4 separate regions of the Homo sapiens genome follow, and regions 2, 3 and 4 are each linked to region 1. The links come from fine-mapping of genetic effects on gene expression. A gene starts in region 1. Each other region holds a variant in brackets. All regions are shown on one strand. Distances are between the middles of the regions.

The links. PIP is the estimated chance that this variant, and not a neighbour inherited with it, causes the effect. A credible set is the group of variants that fine-mapping cannot tell apart.
Region 2: its variant is the best candidate, but not a certain one, in a credible set for the expression of GPAT3 in whole blood (TOPMed, PIP 0.50).
Region 3: its variant is the best candidate, but not a certain one, in a credible set for the expression of GPAT3 in blood mononuclear cells (TOPMed, PIP 0.72).
Region 4: its variant is the best candidate, but not a certain one, in a credible set for the expression of GPAT3 in monocytes (TOPMed, PIP 0.70).

Annotation. Positions count from the first base shown.
Region 1 is chr4:83,533,794-83,538,942 of GRCh38, forward strand. It overlaps GPAT3 (glycerol-3-phosphate acyltransferase 3), which reads left to right and starts at 2,315. Exons shown (of 12, transcript NM_032717.5): 1 at 2,315-2,970. The coding sequence starts at 2,830.
Region 2 is chr4:83,614,703-83,619,851 of GRCh38, forward strand. No RefSeq gene overlaps it. Among named protein-coding and RNA genes, the nearest start is that of GPAT3, 81 kb to the left of the region's middle. RefSeq lists enhancers at 3,401-4,600, 3,774-4,068. The variant A/G (reference allele first, on the strand shown) is at 2,813.
Region 3 is chr4:83,566,861-83,572,009 of GRCh38, forward strand. The region is part of intron 2 of GPAT3 (glycerol-3-phosphate acyltransferase 3); the gene reads left to right. Among named protein-coding and RNA genes, the nearest start is that of GPAT3, 33 kb to the left of the region's middle. The variant C/A (reference allele first, on the strand shown) is at 2,177.
Region 4 is chr4:83,554,998-83,560,146 of GRCh38, forward strand. The region is part of intron 2 of GPAT3 (glycerol-3-phosphate acyltransferase 3); the gene reads left to right. Among named protein-coding and RNA genes, the nearest start is that of GPAT3, 21 kb to the left of the region's middle. The variant T/C (reference allele first, on the strand shown) is at 3,216.

The DNA.
Region 1 (5,149 bases):
ATTTGTGGTGATTTGTGAAGGCATCCCTAGGAAACAAATACAGTAAGTAAAGGGGGTCTTGACTTCAGGGACGGAGAAAGTAGGTTCCTACCTAGGTTTAAGTCTCAAGGAATGGAGGAGGGAGGAGAGGTGAGGAGAGTGAAAGAGAGACAAGGAGAGCGGCAAGTCGGGACCAACTTTCCCCGACTTGAGACAGGGTCAGGATCACCCTACATTTCTTCTCTTCCCTCACCCTCCTCCATCACTGCAAAGATGAGCCTTTGTTACCCTGGGGAGCCTGTGTTGGCTCTCCTGCCTTTTAGGCAAGAAAAAGATGAAGAGTTTTTGCCCTTGCACCAGGCTGCCTGCTGATCTCTGCATAGAGCTTTGTCATTTACCATGCAGTTTCATGCTCACAATCACTTTCAACCCTGAGAAGAACCCATCTTCCTGATGAGAAAGGTGAAGCACAGAAGCACTTGCTCAAACTTATATGTGTTCGTGCTGCTCTCAATCGAAGACTCCAAATTCCATTTTATTACCATTGCACCATACAGCTGTGGACGAATAATTCTTCCGTAACAGTTAAAACAAAACCAAACCAAAACCATTTTGTGGAGTTTGTTCATGAGCACCAAAAATCACTGGAGAGTGTGTGCACTCAGCACACGCAAAGTTGTGTGTATTATCTCCCTTGTGGGGTAAACTTTGGTACAAGGATTTAGCCTTCCTTAGTTATCTTGGTTTGAGGAAATAAAAGGAAAATAAGAGTTTTGCCTGAACATATGGTGTTAAATATGCCAATATAATATTTGAAGTTTTGCACTCAATATATATAGTGTTTGAAAGCAAGGACTTTGGGCAGCTTTCGGTAGTTGCGTTTTCCGTGTTTTTCTAAACTAGCCAACCTTACAGAGGTTTAATTTTGAGAAACCAAGCTCCTAACACTTCTTCATTCATAACCCTTTTTTTTTTTTTTTAGACTGAGTCTCACTCTGTCTCCCAGGCTGCAGTGCAGTGGCACGATCTCGGCTCACTGCAACCTCCTCCTCCCGGGTTCAAGTGATTCTCCTGCCTCAGCCTCCTGAGTAGCTGGGACTACAGGCGTGCGACACCACGCGGGGCTAATTTTTTTGTATTTTTAGTAGAGACGGGGGTTTCGCCATGTTGGCCAGGCTGGTGTTGAACTCCTAACCTCAGATGATCTGCCCGCCTCGCCTCCCAGAGTGCTGGGATTACAGGCGTGAGCCACCGCGCCCGGTCCATAACCTGGTTTTAATCATCAAGTTATAATTTTTTCCGTTCTTAGTGTGGGAGGGGGCTTGTGACAGCTACCTGGCAGTAAGTACTTAAGGCAGACATCTACATTCTTTACAGAGGGGCTTGTCACTTCGTTGGCTCCCCACTTCCTCCACACCCTGGGCAGGGACCATTTTCTCTGCAATATTTGCTATCAGCGCTGTTTCAATTCAGTTTGCTGGCCCTCTCAGTTTTTTTCCAGCTTGAAACAACACCTGAAAAGTACCTGTAAGAGATTTTGGTCGAATTCAGCGGCAATCTGGAAAATCCCTTCTCAAAATCCCTTCTGCTCATTCTTAAAAATAGTTCTGGTCTCTAAGAGAACAGCAATGTAGTAAATAACATACAGGGTTTTGCCCTTCGTTGCTCTGATAAGGGCTGGCGCGGTAGAAGCGCGGAGCCTGAACACCCAGGAGACACCTGTCAGCTTGGTGAATGAAGGCTTGCGCCGGCCTGGCATTTCTGCTACGCCTAAGCGCGGATAGTATTGGCTGAATGGTAGGGGAAGGTGTGGTTGGAATCTTCCCCCAGAAAGGGAGTGACAGATACTTAGCCGCAGGGTTTCTGTGCCAGGGAGATGGCGGCTCAGTGGGCTAGGCAACGCGTGGAGAGAGCTTCCTACTCTCGGGATAAGCAAGATTGAGCCCCACAGCTGTAGGCCATGTGGGGAAGGAGGTGTGGAAGCCAGAAGCGGCGTACACGGCTGCGTGGTGCGCTCTGCGTTTTCCTGTCCTTGGAAGCCCTTTCCAAGAGTTCGTTTTACACCCACACAAACAAGACCTCAAGCGTCCCAGATACGTCAGCAGTTCATTCTGCGGGTGAAGAAAATATTGACATTTTTCAGATGAAAACTCTCCTCCTGAAAGGACCTTTGCTGAGTGCTGGGGGAGGCGGGGCGCGGGGAAGAACGGAGACCGCCCAGGAGGCTGCGGCACTCCTGGGCTAAGTACTGCCAGGGAGCTCCCCCGTTGGGTGACGGAGGAGGTGGGGCGAGGGCAGCGCGCAGAAATAGGGCGCTGGGCGCCCGAGCGCAGCCAGCTTCCAGCACAGCCCGCGGCCCGGTGCCAGCTCCGCCGGCGACCGGTGTGCCAAAGTGCGGTGCTCCCGCAGGGAACCTGGCTCGGGGAGGGCCTCCGTGAGTCATCTGCTGAGTTGTCGCAATCGCCACCCAGAGGAAATCAGGCACCGGGCGGGGCGGGTTCCTGGCTGCGCTCGCGCGCTCTGCCCGCGCCGCGGTGTGCCTCCGCTTACCCGCAGCTCCGACCACTGGCTCGCGCTACCCAGGTCTCCGCACGCCGCGGTGGCTTCAGCCCAGACCTGGGCAGCCAGCGGAGAAAGAGTTAACTGGCAGGGGCGAGGAGGAGCCCAGGGAGGAAGGAAGGATATTGCCGTAATTCTGAAAGTTTTTTTCCTTCCTCTCTTCCCTTCGCAGAGGTGAGTGCCGGGCTCGGCGCTCTGCTCCTGGAGCTCCCGCGGGACTGCCTGGGGACAGGGACTGCTGTGGCGCTCGGCCCTCCACTGCGGACCTCTCCTGAGTGGGTGCGCCGAGTCATGGAGGGCGCAGAGCTGGCCGGGAAGATCCTTTCCACCTGGCTGACGCTGGTTCTCGGCTTCATCCTTTTACCTTCGGTCTTCGGAGTGTCTCTGGGCATCTCCGAGATCTACATGAAGATCCTAGTGAAAACTTTAGAGGTGAGTGCCGGGAGGGATGCAGCCAGCCCCACACCGCTGCGGGCTGAGAACCCGGGGGTCCAGTTCTCAAGGTCAGTGGTCGCGAGTCAGGGGTGTGTGTGCGCGCGTGTGCATGCGTGCGTGCATTTCTGTTCCTTGCCCGCAGCAGTGCGAAAGTCAGCATCTCGGCTTCTTTCGCGGAGCTGGAGGGATCTAGGCTGGAACCACTGGACCACTCTGTTGTTTCTCTGGTCGAAGGCGAAAAAATCATTCCACTCCCTGAGCATCGTTATTATTTTACTGATTAGAATAACAACAATGCGACCAACTTTTTGTATCAGAGGATTTGCTTATATCCATTATGCAGTGCAGTTTCCGCTTCACCCGCTTGTTTTTACAGCCCCAGGTTTCAGAGGTCCTTTTGTGTACTAAGGCATCCAGTTCAGAAAGGCATCATGTTCTTCTTTATGCCCAAGATAAGAGACCAATTGCTGGATGGCAGAAAGAAATCTTATTTTATTTTAGTGGAGTCATGGAAATTTTATCTAACCAACAGCACTTGAAATGCCATTGAAAAGGTATATATTCTTTGACCTCAGGTCTCCCTACCCTCCTGTTTCCAAATCCTGCAAAGAAAAATGTTAGATGGAAGTAGGCCTGGTAGAGAACAACTGCAGCTTACTCTTAGGGTTTTATTAAGTGTCAAAAGGCTGGGTAGGGTAGGGAGGGCAAGTGCCAACCCCCTTTTACAGAGAGGGAAACTGAGAGTCAGAGATCAGTGGTTTCTTTGAATTAAGTGTTAGAAGCAGGAGTCTTTTTTTAAAAAAAAATTTAATTATATGTATAATATGTGTGTGTGTGTGTGTGTGTGTGTGTGTGTGTGTATATTTAACATAAGAGACAGGGTCTTGCTATCTTGGCTAGGCTGGTCTTGAACTCCTGGCCTCAAGCAATCTTCCTGCCGTCACCTCCCAAAGTGCTGGGATTAAAGGTGTGAGCCCCACGCCTGGCCAGAAACAGGCATCTCAACTGAGAAGAGGCCCTGCAGCCTAGTGGTTAGGATTAGGGACCCTGGATACAGGTTTGCTTAGATTTGGTACCAAAATTGTAGCTCTGTTTCTCAAAATGTGACCTTAGGGAGGTCATCTACTCTTGTGCCTCATTTTCTGTATCTATAAAATAGGAGTAACAATAACTCCTATTTCCATAGGGTTGTTCAAATGAGTTAAAAGGTATCAAGCACCTTAGAAGGCTGCCTGCACCTACTGTATGAATGCTTGTTGCTATTAAAAGAATAATATGATTACTGAGATTCTGGCATTCCACAGTGCCTTCTAATAAGTTTGGTTCCCATTTTTGTGACCTGTTTTCTCTCTGCCCTTAGGACGTGGCTTTATCTGCTCTTCTTTCTCAGCTAATTGGGTGGCTCCCAGGTATACATCTCTAACCCACTGGACATTGTCTTGTACTTGCTAGCCTCCTGTATTGCCCTAGACTCTTGTTTGTGGCTATTTCTTTGCCTAGACTTTGAAGTTGTATGTGATTCTTCATCCTCAGTGCTCATGTTTTTAAAGTTCTACTGTTTCTACTTGGGAGCTATTTCTCAGTTTTGAACTCTTCTTATTGACTTTACATTCTGAGCTTGGTCACATTATGCTGTGAATTTCTTGACTGCTTCCTAATGTGAGATCTTCAGAATCCTCTCCCATAGCAGATGATCCTCTTCAGCTGGTGTTCCCTCTTTCTCTGAACTCTGAAATGATTGAACTGCTCTCTCATACAGCAATGTCTTTTGGAATTTATACCCTGTGTAAGAATGGTGTAAAGGTAAATCACACCCACTGGCTTCCAGGGGCTCACTTCTGTCTGTTTTTCTTTAGTAACTCAAGGTCAGCTAAGGACGGAGGCCAGCTAGTTGCTGTCAGCCTGGCAAATTATTATACCTGATAGGATGATCTCCAGTCCAGGATCTGACTTTCAGTTTGACAGGCCAGAGATTTTAATTTTTGTCCTTCTGGATAACTCCAGAGCTGAACTCCTTGTCAATCAAACTGACAAGAATGCCAGTTTTCTAATTCTGGTGGGAGAAACCAGATAACTTGGAAACCAGGTAGGTGACACATCAGGAACCCACCCTGTCTGCTGAGACTAAGTTATTAGGTCAAAGAGATGCTTGATATATGTGGAATTTGAATACAGA
Region 2 (5,149 bases), 81 kb after region 1:
TGTGAGTACCTCAGTGGCCTAGGCTGTGAGAATCTATGGTGGCAGTGGTGCATCTTTGCGGGGATGGGACCATTGAGCTTTTTCTCTGGCCAGAGGCATAAGTGTGCAGTGGGTTGGTTGGTTTGGTGACTGGCTTGCTGGGGGTGAATTTTCCATGCAGTTTCGCTGGCCATGGGTGCAGGGATACAGATGCTTGGTGGACCTGGGAGTGGGTCCACCAGGAATGTTTCTGCTGGAGGTGGGTTCACCTTGTTGCTTCTCCAGCTGGGACATGGATGTGCAGTAGTTCGGTGGCTTGTCTCAGGGGCAGGTTTGTCAGGCTGTTTCTTTGGTAGTGAGTGCCAAGAAGGGGGACTTTCTGGGGGAAGGTCCATTGGACTATTTAGTTCAGCCAGCCAAGGGTTGGCTTTCCTGCTGTGCAATGCTGAAGTCATGGCTGTTCCTGGCCCCATGCTCCAAGCAGACAGCGTTGTGGTATTGCAGCCACCTGTGTGGACTTGGTAAAATAATGGCAGAGACTCAAGGCTGGAGACATGCAGTGGCTGCTGGACCCCAGAGCAGGGTGGACTCTAGCAGTGGTTCCAGTTTCAAGATGGCACAGTCCTGCAGTAGCTTGGCTCACTGGGGTTGATTGGGGTGGGGAGTGCACACCTTGTGTTCCTACTCTGGAGTAACGCAGCTATGTTAATTCCAAGCAGCTCCGCAAACTGGGCTAAGGGCTTTTGAGGACTGTGGGATTCTTCTATAGTAAGTACTACAGGAATCTGCAGTGGCAGTTCAGGCATGTGGGGGCCTTCTGCTTACCTTTTTCCCATATGGAGAAGTCCCTCCTGGATCTGAGCCAATCTCAATGGGAGAGATGGGGTGGCAGGGGCAGGGTGCCTTGCTCCCCTCTTTTTGCTGACATCCTGGGCTTCTGTGCTCCACAGGGATTTCACCAGTCCCTTTCTGCACTCCAGTGCTGTCCCTCAGACACTACAGTTGAATGTTAGTTGTTATTTGTTGTTTTGGTTGTTTTTTGTTGGGAGGGATATGTGCCAGGCAACTCTAGTTAACCATTTTGTTGATGTCCTTTATTTCCCTTTGTTTTTTTTATGAGACTGAGTCTCCGTCTGTCATCCAGGCTGGAGTGCAGTGGCACAATCTTGGCTCACTGCAATCTCTGCCTCCTGGGTTCAAGCGATTCTCCTGCCTCAGCCTCCTGAGTAGCTGGGATTACAGGCATGCACCACCACTCCCAGCTATTTTTTTTTGTATTTTCAGTAGAGACAGGGTTTCACCATATTGACCAGACTGGTCTCGAACTCCTGACCTCAGGTGATCTGCCTGCTTCAGCCTCCCAAAGTGTTAGGATTACAGGCATGAGCCACTGCGCCCAGCCTTATTTCTCATTTGTAAGAGTTATATCTAATTCTTTTTCAAATGTGATTACTCTCACATAGTTTTGAAGTACCTTATGCTTATTGATTTTATGTTTTTCCCAACAACTCCAAAATCTTATATCTTTTGAGGGTCTGGGTCTATCTTTTCTGCTGCTTCTTGTTCATAGAGTCTTTGTGTGTTTAGAGAATTTTAATAATTATCATCTTTGGAATTTTATCCTCTCTTAGACCTGGAGAGCAGGGATCAGCAAACCAAAGCTTGTAGGCCAAATCCTGCCCTCTGTCTGTTTTTGTAAATACAATTTTATTGCAAGACAGCATTTGTTTATATATTGCCTATAGCTGCTTTTGCATGACAAAAGCAAAGTTGAGTAGTTGCTATAGTGACCTGCATGGCCCACAAAGCCTAAAATGTTTACTATCTGCTTCTTCATCTGATATGGTTGCCCACCCCAGCTCTAGGGCACTATCAATCTGGTACTACTTTAAACTATATTGTTGGCTTGAGGTTATCGGGCTATGGAAATAGTGAGAATTCAGTCTGTAAATCCAAAGGTGAGCCATTGTGGTTTTGAATGATCTGTGTACTATTTTTAGATAAATCCACATTGTATTTATAAGTAATTCATTCTTTTTAATTGCCAAGTAGTTTTAAATCTTTAGGGGAAAGTTATTTTTCCCTTTCACTTATCAGTAAGGTTTGACACAAGCAATTTGCCTTGCTTACATTTGAGATTGGAGGATGGATTATTTCTTTTTTTTTTCTTTTCTTTTTTTTTTTTTTTGAGATGGAGTTTCGCTCTTGTTGCCCAGGCTGGAGTGCAATGGCGTGATCTCGGCTTACCGGAACCTCTGCCTCCCGGGTTCAAGCGATTCTCCTGCCTCAGCCTCCAGAGTAGCTGTGATTACAGGTGTGCGCCACCATGCCTGGCTAATTTTGTATTTTTTTTGGGTAGAGATGGGGTTTCTCCATGTGGTCCGGCTGGTCTCGAACTCTTGACCTCAGGTGATCCGCCCGCCTCGGCCTCCCAAAGTGCTGGGATTGCAGGCATGAGCCACTGCACCTGGCCCTTTCTACTTTACTGTTACACAGAGGTTATAGTCCTTTGATATTTCACCTTCAAAGGAAGACTGTAGTTAGACTTTCCATCTTGGGCAGGACTTCAATTTTGTTTTTTGTCCCTTAGGCCCTTAAGGCTCTAGAAACCAATGCTAGAGTTTGCCTGGTTCAGCCAATGCCTGCAAAGTAAATGACAACTGCTGGGCTCTCTGCTCTGCTTTTTCCTCTGGGAATCGATCTTCCTTTAGTCTCTGACTTGAGTAGTCCTAACTTTCTTGCTAGTTACAGAAGCATTCAAAATCATTTTCTTTTATCATATAGGAAGAGAGTGAGTTCTTGTTGCAAAAAATAAAAGTTCTAGAAGGAGACA[A/G]CTTTAAATTTAAAAAGAAGTTTCTCTGAGTGTTTTACTCTAGGTTAAAGCCATTATTTAAATATAAGGAGAAAAGCCTCTCCTTTAGAATCATTACTGTTCATTTGCAAATTAAATGCTGAAAGGTTTTGTAAGATAAAGTGATTTATAGGAGATCTGGACTAACACAGGGAAAACTGGAAGATTTTGGTGTTGGTGGAGAATACAAAAACCCGACAGCAGGAAGTCAGCTGAAAGAAGCCACCAGGTCATTGGTGTTCTTGGCATTGTGGGTGGGTGGTGAGTTTTCAGGCTGCACGTGTTACAGCCTAGGCTGAGGATCCCATCAAGGCTTTTGATGGCCCTCCATGGTCATAAATTCCTGCTATGAGCACTCCCTGCTGTTGTGAGACGCATATAGTAATTCTGGCTACTTGCTGGCCTCTTGGCTCTGTGTCCGGAAAAGATGTCTTGGAAAACTCTGAGAATAAAAAATGTATACTCTATCTTGGTGACCTAAAACATTTCAAATCCGTTTGCCCTCTAAAGCTGTGATCAGGGAGTGGATAGCTCAAAGAGCAGAACCAGTTAGTCTCCTCTCAAGGTGAAATATATATATTTCTTATACAAATAGGTGAATTTAAACTTTTTTGAGAATCTTTGACAATTGTATGTCTTGGCTTAGTTAAGATATATCCTTGCTGATTACACAAGTCAATTAGGGATCACAGGTTAGAGTTGGGCAAGTTTTCAAATCATTGTTTCTCTAGCTTTATAAAGGAAAACACCTATATTTGGTGCTTACAATTCGTATGCTGTTCTAGGTCTGAGGACACAACAATGACAAAGGCAAAAACTCTGGGCTATGGAAATCCACTGAAGCAGGTGGAAAATAAAAACAAAATCAAGAAACATGTTTGGACGAAAACATCATAGGGGATTTAGAGTGCCTTTGAACATTTTTCATGTAAGTTTGGGATAGTAAATGCCTAAGCACTCTTCTGAAAGAGTTTACAGAAAAGTATACTTCCTTTACAACTAAAGTATAGTGTCAATGGAATCAAGCTCTGTGACTAGGAGCCGGGAGTGGAGCTGACATCTATGGAATGCACACGTGACAGTGCTCATGTGCTGAGTCACCTGTGGGGTTGACCTTGGTTCAAAGCCTGTTTTTCATTGCAATCATTCTTTGATACAGGCAGCCCTGATGTCTGTTGCTAAATTAAGCACAAGTGAACCTGTCAAACGTCCTAACTGGAAGGAATTTTCAGTGCTGGTTATTTGTAAGGCAGGTTCTGAAACTGTTCCTGCAGAACCGAATTTTTTTTAGGATAGGCAGAGAAATGACTTTGGAAATCCTGTTCTATCCAGTCAGTTCTCCAGATTTTTGGTTAACAATGGAATGATGAATGAAATACCATAGCTTCACCTAGTAAATTCCTTGGTCCAAAAGCTCTCTTTGGAAACTGCTTCTGTTTAACAGTTATCCTCTTTAGGCATTTACACATATTTTATAAAATACATACTATAATTCAGGCTCTGTTAGTCTTGAGGTTCTTTGCTGCCCAAGGCAGGAACTTGCCATTCAGGAGCTTAGAAAAATCTGGAAGTAGAGACAAACACCACTAACCACAAGAGGAAGTGGCGAGGCCCTGTTTTCCAGCCCAGGAACAAAGTGCTGTGGGAGTGTAGAGAGGTGATAAATGTTGGGTGGAAGGGTGTGTAGAAGGGAGGACATGAGTGTGCCTTGAGGAATGACTAAGTGCTCTCCAGTGAAGTCAGGAAACGTGCAGGTGATTCCTTGTTCTGTGCATATACTGTCCTTCCCAATTCCCATACCCTTGAGAAAACAAAACAAAACCAAACCAAATAGGAGAGGGTTGTTTATAATCGCAGACCTTTTTGACTCCGAAATGCCCCATGTTCTTATTTTGGAGCCATTTACCACTTCCCCAGCATCACTTCCCTAGCCCAAGCCATCATCATTTCTTACAGGGCTATAGTAACTCTTCTAATGGATCTCCCTGCCTCTTCTCTTGTTCCCCAAATAGTCTATTTGGTAAATAGAAGCTAGTGTGATAATTTCAACTCATAAATTGACTCATTTTGCTCCCACTATCAGAACTCTTCAGTGGCTTCCCATTACACAGAGGATAAAGATTAAATTCCTTACCCCAGTATTCGAAGCCTTGAAACAATCTGACCACTGATCAGTCTTCTAGCCTGATTTCTATCATGCTTTCCCTGGCTCAAACTCCTGCAGTACTCTGGCCCTTTTGTTCTTTTTTTGAAACCACTATGAATTTTTGTGCTCAGGGCCTTGGCACTTGCTACTTCAGCTTGGAATGATCTCCTAGA
Region 3 (5,149 bases), 33 kb after region 1:
AGATAGGTATTGCACATTTCCTCTTAGTTTTATATTTTAGTTGCTATTATAAATAAGGTGTGTTCTTCCATTATATTTTCTAAATAATTGTTGTTCATGTATAGGAAAATTTTCTACTTTAGTAAGGTAGAAGAATATAAAATTAAGAATTCTCATACTGTATATGGTTTTTCAGGAATTTCCTTTTGTTCAGATATATAATTATTTTATCTTCAGATATTGATAGGCTTGCCATTTCTTATTCAACTTTGGTTTGCATTTTATTTCTTTCCTAGTTTGTACTTCATTTTTTTTCTCTTGTCTGGTTGTGCTGGCTGATACTCCCTGCAGTGCTAAACAGTAGTGGTGCTAGTTGGCAAGTTGGCATTTCTATGTGGATGGTCTTCAGTGCCTTTAGGGTCTTCCCAATAAAGATCATGTCAACTTTGATCTATTTTTCCATCTCATGTTAAATAGTTGCTGATTCTTGTTTTGTTACTTTAAATTAAGAGTGAATGTTGAATTTTCATGCTTTTAAGGCATGTCTGATGGTGAAGATAGATTACCCCTCTTAGACCCATTGTAGTGAATTTTATTAATAACTTTAAAAATATTTGAATTGTCTTTGCATTTATGGAATAAACATTACCTGGTCATAATATGATGCTGGAAGTTGTCTGCCAAAATTGAAGTTAGGATTTTTACAGTTGATTCTTATACTTGTGATTAGTGTATTACTTACCTATCTTCCTTTATTTCTCCTTCCCTTGTCAGTTTAAATGTTTGGTAGAATTCCTTAAAAAAAGGTCTGGGCCAGGAGTGGTGGCTTATGCCTGTAATCCTAGCACTTTGGGAGGCTGAGGCGGGTGGATCATTGAGCTCGGGAGTTCAAGACCAGCCTGGGCAACATGGCAAAATCCTGTCTCTATTTGAAAACAACAACAACAAAAAAAGCCTGGGTCTGGTGCTTATTGGTTGGTTAGGGGTGCATATGTAGGTATTTTTTTGCTGCCTGCAACATTATTTCATCTGTGCAAATGGTTCTCTTTAGCATGTTCATCTCTTGGTGTCAGTAAAGCTTTGAGCAACTTTTTTTTTAAATAGAAAATTATCTGTTTACCCAGATTTTCATTAAAGTTATTTGCAGAAGACTTTGTGTAGAATTCTTTCTTATGATTTTTATGATTTTCTGTTTTTTTCTTTGCACATTTTTATTTTGTATTATATGTGGGCTTTCTCTCCTGCCCTTATTTTATTTTTCTTAATTGGATTAAGTAGTGGGGTGTGCAGGTGCTTAAAGTAAACTTTACCCTGTTTCACATTAAAAAAAAATTGATTGTAACTTGTATCTTTAAATGTGCCAACCCAGGCCATGTTACTAGGGGGAGCGTGAGTAGTTTCATAACTCGAATGCTTTTTTTTAAAATAGGCAATTGTGATTGAGTCATCATGATTGAGTAGCGCTTAGGAAAACCAAAGGAGATGCATTTATTTTGAGCACATTTCATGTATATTAAAGGTCATCATAGTTGTGATGACTTCTTCCCCTTTTCATTTTATGGACCTATTGTATGGTATATCATAATCTATTTCTTCTAAGGCAGGGTTATTGCTACCAGGAAACCTGTGAAACTTTTATGTAGTGTTTTTTAACTTTTCATTTGTATTCACTTTTTTTTTTTTTTTGAGACGGAGTCTCGCTCTGTTGCCCAGGCTGGAGTGCTGTGGCGCGATCTAGGCTCATTGCAAGCTCCGCCTCCCAGATTCACGCCATTCTTCTGCTTCAGCGTCCGGGGTAGCTGGGACTACAGGCACCCGCCACCACACCCGGCCAACTTTTTGTATTTTTACTAGAGACGGGGTTTCACCATGTTAACCAGGATAGGCTCGATCTCCTGACAGGTGATCCACCCACCTCAGCCTCCAAAGTGCTGGGATTACAGGTATGAGCCACCACGCCCGGCCTGTATTCACATTTTTCATTTGTCATCCTCTTCAATTCCCCCACTTCCAATAACTGAGAAACTTAAAACCTTAAAATAACCACAAAACTGCCTAACAAGGAGCAACCTCTCTTACTAGTACATTGCTAATGTAACCATTAAATAGATAAAATACTATTCATAATATGTGAAATTAAGTGGAAAGATGTTATGTGTGTCTGTGACCTCCCAGTGTTCTAATGCTTACTGGTAAT[C/A]AGTTGGTTCTCTCATCTTAAGTATTTCTCCTAAATCAGCTTCATTTGTAAGGTGAATGGTTTAACATAGATCTGTTGTTTGTATCAACAAAATGATAATGTTATTCAGAGGTAGGGGCAAGTCCAGGTCTTGTGGGGGCTTAAAGCTTATGCAATTTAGAGGCCTTCTTTAATAAGGAATACAAAGTGATCCATGCAAAAGTAAGTACAGGACCTTGGAAGGAGCCTATGCAAGTTTGGACCCTGAAGTTTAACCTTACTGGCTTCATGGTCAATCTGTCTTTTGCTCAAAGACCTTGAACTGAAACCTGGAGTGATGACTGAGAAGAATATAGCAGGGCTGCTTGGCTCTTTGGACCAAAAAAGAGAGACCATTTTCTATAAACCTTGCCTGGCTGACGGTCCAGGTTAATAAAGATGTAAAAATGGTAGAAGGTGTGAGAATATATCTAAGAACAATAACACCAACAACAAATCAAGGGGGATTATCCTTTCTAAACCTTGACTATGTCATCTGTGAGATGTGTAGGGAAGCTGCTTCTGCCGTGTAGAGGCCTTGAAGAGTAAGGATACTGGCAGGATGCCTGTGCACTGATGTTACAGAGTCTTAGCAGAGGGCAGAACGGTCTCCTTGGACAACGTGGACCTGGCTGAACTACAGCACTGGGGACCACTTGGTGCACCACTGCCCAGGGCATGGTTTTGTTTGTTTGTTTGTTTGGCTTATTGTAGGATGGCCCAGAGATTCTAAATGAGAGGAATTTAAGTGGGTTCCAAGCTGTAAAAGATTCCTGCCTCAGTTAAAAAAAAAAGGGTGAATTGTGTCACAACTTTCTGGGAAGAATGATCACGTGTAAGTGAATTGTAAGTGCATGTCTAGATTAATGTTAGATAGGGGCCATATATAGATTTTCTTGTATCAATTAAAGTTATCTTTCTTCCCTCAAAGGTAGGAGAAATGCTAGGAAGAGCTGCTACTCAGGGCTTTCTGTTTAGCAAGGAAGAACTGGGGGTGGTGTTGTATTGACGAGAAATATCTTACATATTTGGGATTCGTCAGTGGGCAGGTATTGGTTAGAGCGATGTGAAACTTGAGGCAATAACATATGAGGAAGCACTTGGTTTTGGAGTCACCGACTTGGTTGCAAATCCTGTCTCAGTTCCTTCTTCTCTCTGGCCCCAGGCAAGTTACTCAACCCCTCTGCACTTTAATTTCCTCATGTATAAGTTGGAGATAATACAGAATACCTCATAGGATTGCGAAGACTACAAAAGTGTAGGTGTCAAGGGTTTTATATACAGCCTGGCATCAGGAGACACTCAGTCAATGTCAGCTGCCTTTTAGTTTAGGAAGGAAGATTTTAAAATATACATGGGAAGATAGGATTGGCTAGAGCCTTTAATTGAAACTATAGCTAGAAATTTGGGAGAACTCTTTTTTTTTTTTTTTTTTTGAGACGGAGTCTTGCTCAGTCACTCAGGCTGGAGTGCAGCGGCACGATCTCGGCTCACTGCAACCTCCGCCTCCTGGGTTCAAGTGATTCTCCTGCCTCAGCCTCCTGAGTAGCCGGCACTACAGATGTGCACCACCATGCCTGGCTAATTTTCATATTTTTAGTGGAGACAGGGTTTTACTATGTTGGCCAGGGTGGTCTCGAACTCCTGATCTCAGGTGATCCACCCGCCTTGGCCTCCCAAAGTGTTGGGATTACAGGCGTGAGCCACTGTGCCCAGCTTGGGAGAACTCTTAAAGGTAATCTTTTTTTTCTGATTAAAAAAAAATTGAGGTATAATTTGCATCTGTTACAATGCACATATTCAGTGTTCAGATACATGATTTTTTACATATTTGTAGGCTCATGTGATTACCCCAATCGAGCTAAAGAACACATTTATGATCTCAAAGTTCTCTTAAGCCCCTGCTCAGTATCTGCCCTTCATCTCTCAGTCCCAGTGGTACTCTCTCTTCTGATTTCTGTCATCGTCTGTTTTTACTGTTTTTGACATTTACATAAATGAAATCATACATTATATATTCTTTGTGTCTGTTTTTGTTCCCACTCTGTATAATAGTTGTGAGATTTCTCCATGTTGCATGAATCAGTGGATTTTTAAAAATAATTGCTATGGAGTATTCCTTTATATAATACCAATAGTTTGTTTATTTATTATAATGTCGATTGATAATTGGGTTAGTTCCAGTTTTTAGCCATTAGGAATAAAGCTGCTATAAACATTGTACAGACATTCTTATGACTGTCTGTGCCATAGGGTAAGCAAGTATTTGTTGAACTTTATTAGAAACTGCTACATGGTATTCTAAAATGTTTGTGCACTCTCAGCAGCAAAGTTTGAGAGTTCCAGTTGGTCCCTAGCATCTCCAGCACTTGGTATTTTTGGCCTTTTAAAATTTTAGCCATTTTTGTGGGTATGTAGTAGTATCTCATTATAGTTTTAAAAATAACATCTTAAGTATTTTTCTCAATGTAAGTATTTTTCAACAAAGTATATATACTTTGTTGAAAAATTAGACATTGCAGAAGTATAAATAAGTTAAAAATCAGCCATATGAAATACTTATTAATCAGAAAAAGCCTAATATTTTAATGTATTTCCTTATAGTTTTCCCCCACTCATATATATATGTGTATATATATATATACACACACACATATATATACACACACATATATATATATACACGCATATATATATATGTGTATATACACATATATAGTTTTGTTGTTGTTGTTTGAGATGGAGTCTCCCTCTTTTATCCAGGCTGGAGTGCAGTGGTGCCATCTCGGCTCACTGCAATCTCTGCCTCCCGGGTTCAAGCAATTCTCCTGTGTCAGCCTCCCAAGTAGCTGTGAGTACAGGTGCCTGCCATCACACTGACTAATTTTTGTGTTTTTTGTAGAGACGGGGGTTTCACTATGTTGGCCAGGCTGGTCTCAGACTCCTGACCTCAGG
Region 4 (5,149 bases), 21 kb after region 1:
TTTGCCATGTTGGCCAGGTTGTTCTCAAACTCCTGACCTCAGGTGATCCACCTGCCTTGGCCTCCCAAAGTGCTGGGATTACAGGTGTGAGCCACTGCGCCTGGCCTCCTCTTCTGAGAGTTGGCTTTGTCACTGTGACATAATAAGAAATATGTATTAGACTTCTGCTCCCTCTCCCTTTCCTGTCACATAGGTCCTAAAACCTTTGGCATCTCTGCAGTGATAAGTGATAGTGTCTTTGTGTATGCTGATGAGATGACTGGTGGCTGGGAGCTCCTGGATAGATAGCCTCAGGATGGTGGCTGATTGCCAGGGGAGCCAAACATGTGATTACAGGGTTGGAACTTTCAGCTCCCCTCCATATTGCTCCCCAAAGGGCAATGATTAAATCGATCATTTAATCATTTTATGGAAGCTGATGTCATGAAGCTTCCATAAAAACTAAAAAATACAGGGTTTAGAGAACTTTCAGATTGTTGAACACATCCAGGTGCCTGGTGGGAGGTGCACCCCAGCTTCATGGGAACAGAGGCTTCTGTGCTAGGGACCCTTCTGAACCTTGTCGTCAGTGCAGTATTCATCTGGCTGTTCATTTGTGTGCTTTAAAATATCCTTTGTAATACATCAGCACTAGTAAGTAAAGTGTTTCCCTGAGTTCTGTGAGCCATTCTAGCAAATGACTGAACCTGAGGAAGGGACTATGGGAACGCTCAATTTATAGCTGGTAGATCAGAAGTACCAAAGGCTTGGACTTGCAATTGGCACCTGAAGTGGAGGCGGTCTTGTAGAACTGAGCCCTTCATTTGTGGAATTTGACTCTAACTCCAGGTAGATAGTGTCAAAATTTAATTGAATTATGGGACATCTAGCTGGTGTCGAAGAATTGTTTGGTGTGGGAGAAAAACCCACACATCTGGGGTCACAGGAGTGTTCTGTGTTTTGGTGAGAGTATAGTAGAAGAAAAGTCAGTTTGTTTTTTTCTTATTATATAGTCACTTACCAGGAAGCTCCTAACAGTTTGTCCTTATCAATGAAATTTTTGAAGAAACAAATCTATTAAGAATATTTAGCATTACAATCAAAGATACCATACATAAATGCCAAACCACAAGGCTGACATTTTAAGTGAATTAATGGTTCATTTGACAGTGGAGTTTTATGAATGCTTCTGTGCTGTGGGATTTCTTGTTTAATCAAGTTAGCTGTATCCAAATCAACAGAGTTAATGTGGGCTGCCAGCCAAGATGTAGGTCAAGAGTGGGTTGTTAAAATGTTAGTCGTTAAAATGAAACTCTGTTAAGACCATTCTGGCCAACATGGTGGAACCCTGTCTTGACTAAAATACAAAAAAATAGCCGGATATGGTGGTGCACAGCTGTAATCCCAGCTACTTGGGAGGCTTAGGTATGAGAATCACTTCAATCCAGGAGGTGGAGGTTGCAGTGAGTTGAGATTGCACCACTGCACTCCAGCCTGGGTGACACAGTGAGACTCAGTCTCAAGAAAAAAAAAAAAGAAAAAGAAACAAACAAAAAAGGGAACTCTGCCTGTTATTCTCAACGCTATTTTTTTTTCAGTGCTAACTGACAATTGATTAGTGTCCTCAGCTCCACCCCATCCCCATTTATGCATCAAAACTCACAGTTAATTATGTGGCTAATATTTATATTTGGGGTTAAAATTTTCCTATTTTATAATCAGCATTGATTATTTTGTAAGTTTTTGGAGAACTACTGGAATATGCAATGATGAAAAAAGAACTAGATTTTCTCATCTACGGTTCTCAAAAAAAAAAAAAAGTAAATCTATTGCTTCTAGCCTAGTATTTGTCTTAGTCCACTCAGGCTGCTATAACAAAATACCATAGAGTGGGTGGCTTATAAACAACAAACACTGATTTTTCACAGTTCCGGAGGCTGGAAAGCCCAAGATCAAGGCCCAGCTTCCTGGTTTGTACAGGGCTGTCCTTTTGCTGTAACCTCACATGATGACAGGAGTGAGGGATCTTTTTAGGACCTTTCTTATAAGGGCAATAGTCCCATTCATGAGGGCTCCACCCTCATGATCTAATTACCTCCCAGAGGTCCCACCTCCAAATACTCTGACATTGGGGATTAGGTTTCAACACACTAGTCTTGGCAGATGCAAAGATTTAGTCTATGGCAGTACATTTAACTTGGTTTTGGTAACTGAGAGATGCTAGCAGAAAATTACTCAGTTATAAAAAAGGGGAGGGGTACAAATTATTCTATTACAAATGTGCAAACCATGTAGCAATCGGAGTATTGAAGTTACCTTTATTTTAGTAAAGCTTTTGATTCTATTCTAATCCCAAATAACAGGGTCAGCAAATCCATTCTGTCTGTTCCCTTGCCATCATCCTGGCAGACATCACTAGTTGATGAAGTTTGACTCTAACTTAGGGGTATCCAGTCTTTTGGCTTCCCTAGGCCACATTGGAAGAAGCATTGTCTTGGGCCACACATAAAATACACTAACACTAACAATAGCTGATGAGCTTAAAAAAAAATTGCAAAAAAATTTCATAATGTTTTAATGTTGAATGTGGCCCAACACACATTTATATGCAGCCCACAGGCCATGGGTTGGACAAGATGCCCTAAACCATGATATGTCCTCAGAACTCTTTCATGCAATCCAGCAGACAGCTACTCATGTCTCATTGTTTTGGAGTTGGCCTTTGCACTACCTCTGATCTGGAGGATAGATAGGGGTTCTCACGCTGTGTACCAGAGAGGGTCACTAACTGAGAGTTGGGGAACATGTTGAGTAGCTGGGTTTTGGCATGCATTTGATTTTATTGTTTGAGGTAGTATTGATGAATTTGACATAATGTAAAGGGCAATGAAGTTGATTGGAGACTCAGAGTTTTAAACAATGTAGGAAACCGGAATAGAATTTAAAGTCATCTTGACTGGGTGTGGTGGCTCATGCCTGTGATCCCAGCACTTTGGGAGGCCGAGGCAGGTGAATCACCTGAGGTCAGGAGTTCGAGACCAGCCTGGCCAACATGGTGAAATCCCATCTCTACTAAAAATACACAAAATTAGCCGGGCATGGTGGTGCATGCCTGTAATCTCAGCTACTAGGGAGACTGAGGTAGGAGAATCACTTGAATTGGGGAGGCGGAGGTTGCAGTGAGCCAAGATCATACCACTGCACTCCAGCCTAGGCGACACAGCAAGCCTCTGTCT[T/C]AAAAAAAAAAAAGAAAGTCATCTTGACAGTTTTGATGAATGAACCATCAGAGAGTGGGACTGCTTTCAAGATTGTTTACCCATAGCTGATGCTCTAAAATGGGATTAAAAAAACTGGGCTGGGTTACGTGATAAAGGTGTGCCACAGAATGACAGAGGCAGAGGTTTAGACAACCAGTGAAAAACAAGGCAAAACAGAACCTAAAAAGATGCTGCAGTGCTAACAGAACCAGCACATTCAACCACACAGCCATGACTGAACCACTCACCCTGGTTTCTGCCTGCAATATGAAAGGAGATCATTCTGGATGGGGGACATTGGCAAATGTTTTTTGGTGGATATACTGGTGTTGAAGCGGCCATGTGGAGATGGATTGGGATTAAATAAAGTGAGAAGACTGTCTAAACTGGAGGGATGAGGGAATAGCTTAATTAGCAATGGGAGTATATTTAGTTTATAGAAGGGACAAAACATAGAAATAAGGTTGTGGGAAAGCAAGATTGGGTTCTGGAGGCCCTAAAAACAAAGCAGTTTGGATTTGATGTAAAAGCGTAGATAAACCCAGGTTAACTGTTCATATTAAGGGTGGCAAAGAGGAAATTCTGAAGCCTGAAAAATGGTTAAGAGATCTGTGAATCTGTTAAGTGAGATCTGTGAAGGCTGATTACTGAATTTAGAGAAAAACCAAGGGATGACTCATATTAAGTTGGTTAACTAAGTTGGAAAGAGGAAGCAAACCCACATTTTCTCAAATTCTTAAGAGATGGAACAAAAAGATTGGCTTAAATGGAAATAAAAGAATTATATTGTATATAAGAAAACACTTCTTGTTAGCAAAAAATGATTAGAAAACTGGACCAGACTAGCAGGTAGATTATATGAGATATTTTCCAAGTAGGATAAATAGTTTAGAATTTTGGGAGAGGTATAAGTTATATAACAAAGCTCTTTTCATTTTCTTAACAGTGCCTGGTCATCTTGATTGTAAAAAGTTCTCTATAAAAATTTTAAATGTCTGTTTATTTTTAAATCCTTCTTTAGGCAGTGTTTATAATCATGGGACTATCTCATGTGGATTACTTAGTATATAAGCAGAGAAAGCAGGAAAGATTTTTTTTTTGTTTTTTGGAGTTAGAGTCTTGCTCTGTCACCCAGGCTAGAGTGCAGTGACCCAGTCTCTGCTCACTGCAACCCCTGCTTCCCAGGTTCAAGCGATTCTCCTGCCTCAGCCTCCCGAGTAGCTGGGATTACAGGCGCATGCTGCCACGCCTGGCTAATTTTTTGTATTTTAGTAGAGATGGGGTTTCACTGTGTTGCCCTGGCTGGTCTTGAACTCCTGAGCTCAGGCAATCTGCTTGCCTCGGCCCCCCAAAGTGTGGGATCGCAAGCGTGAGCCAGTGCACCCGGAGAAAGCAGGAAAGTTCTTCATCAGTTCTTTTAATCTGCCAGCAAGTAGCAACAATCGTTCCATTCTCCTTTGCCTTTTCTTCTTTCTCTAAAATGTTTTGGTAATGGAATTTCCCATTTTTCTCTGTCCTCTCACCGAAGCTCCTGGGACCCATGCATTCTCACATGAACAAAAAGATGAGGGGGGCAGGTGGCAAGGCATGCTTTGTACACAGTAGGCTGGGGAGATGGAAGTAGATAGCAGTGCTTCTGTTTGGCGAGAACAGGATTTTGGTCAGACAAGAGAGACAGCCAATTGGACTTGTGATTAGACAGAATCCTTTTCTTGGGTTGGAGTAGGAAAAAGCCAGTGATGTCTGGATGCCTGGGGAGCAGGCAAAACCTTTAGGCAGGAGCTTTGGTCTTTGTGAAGCAGCCTCAGAATAGTATGGTGGAAGCTCCACTGTGGACCCCCTTCACTGACTTTTCTAGACCAGGTGCCTGGTTTTCCTGCTTCTCTTCCTCAAAGCTCTGTTTCCTCCAAAGA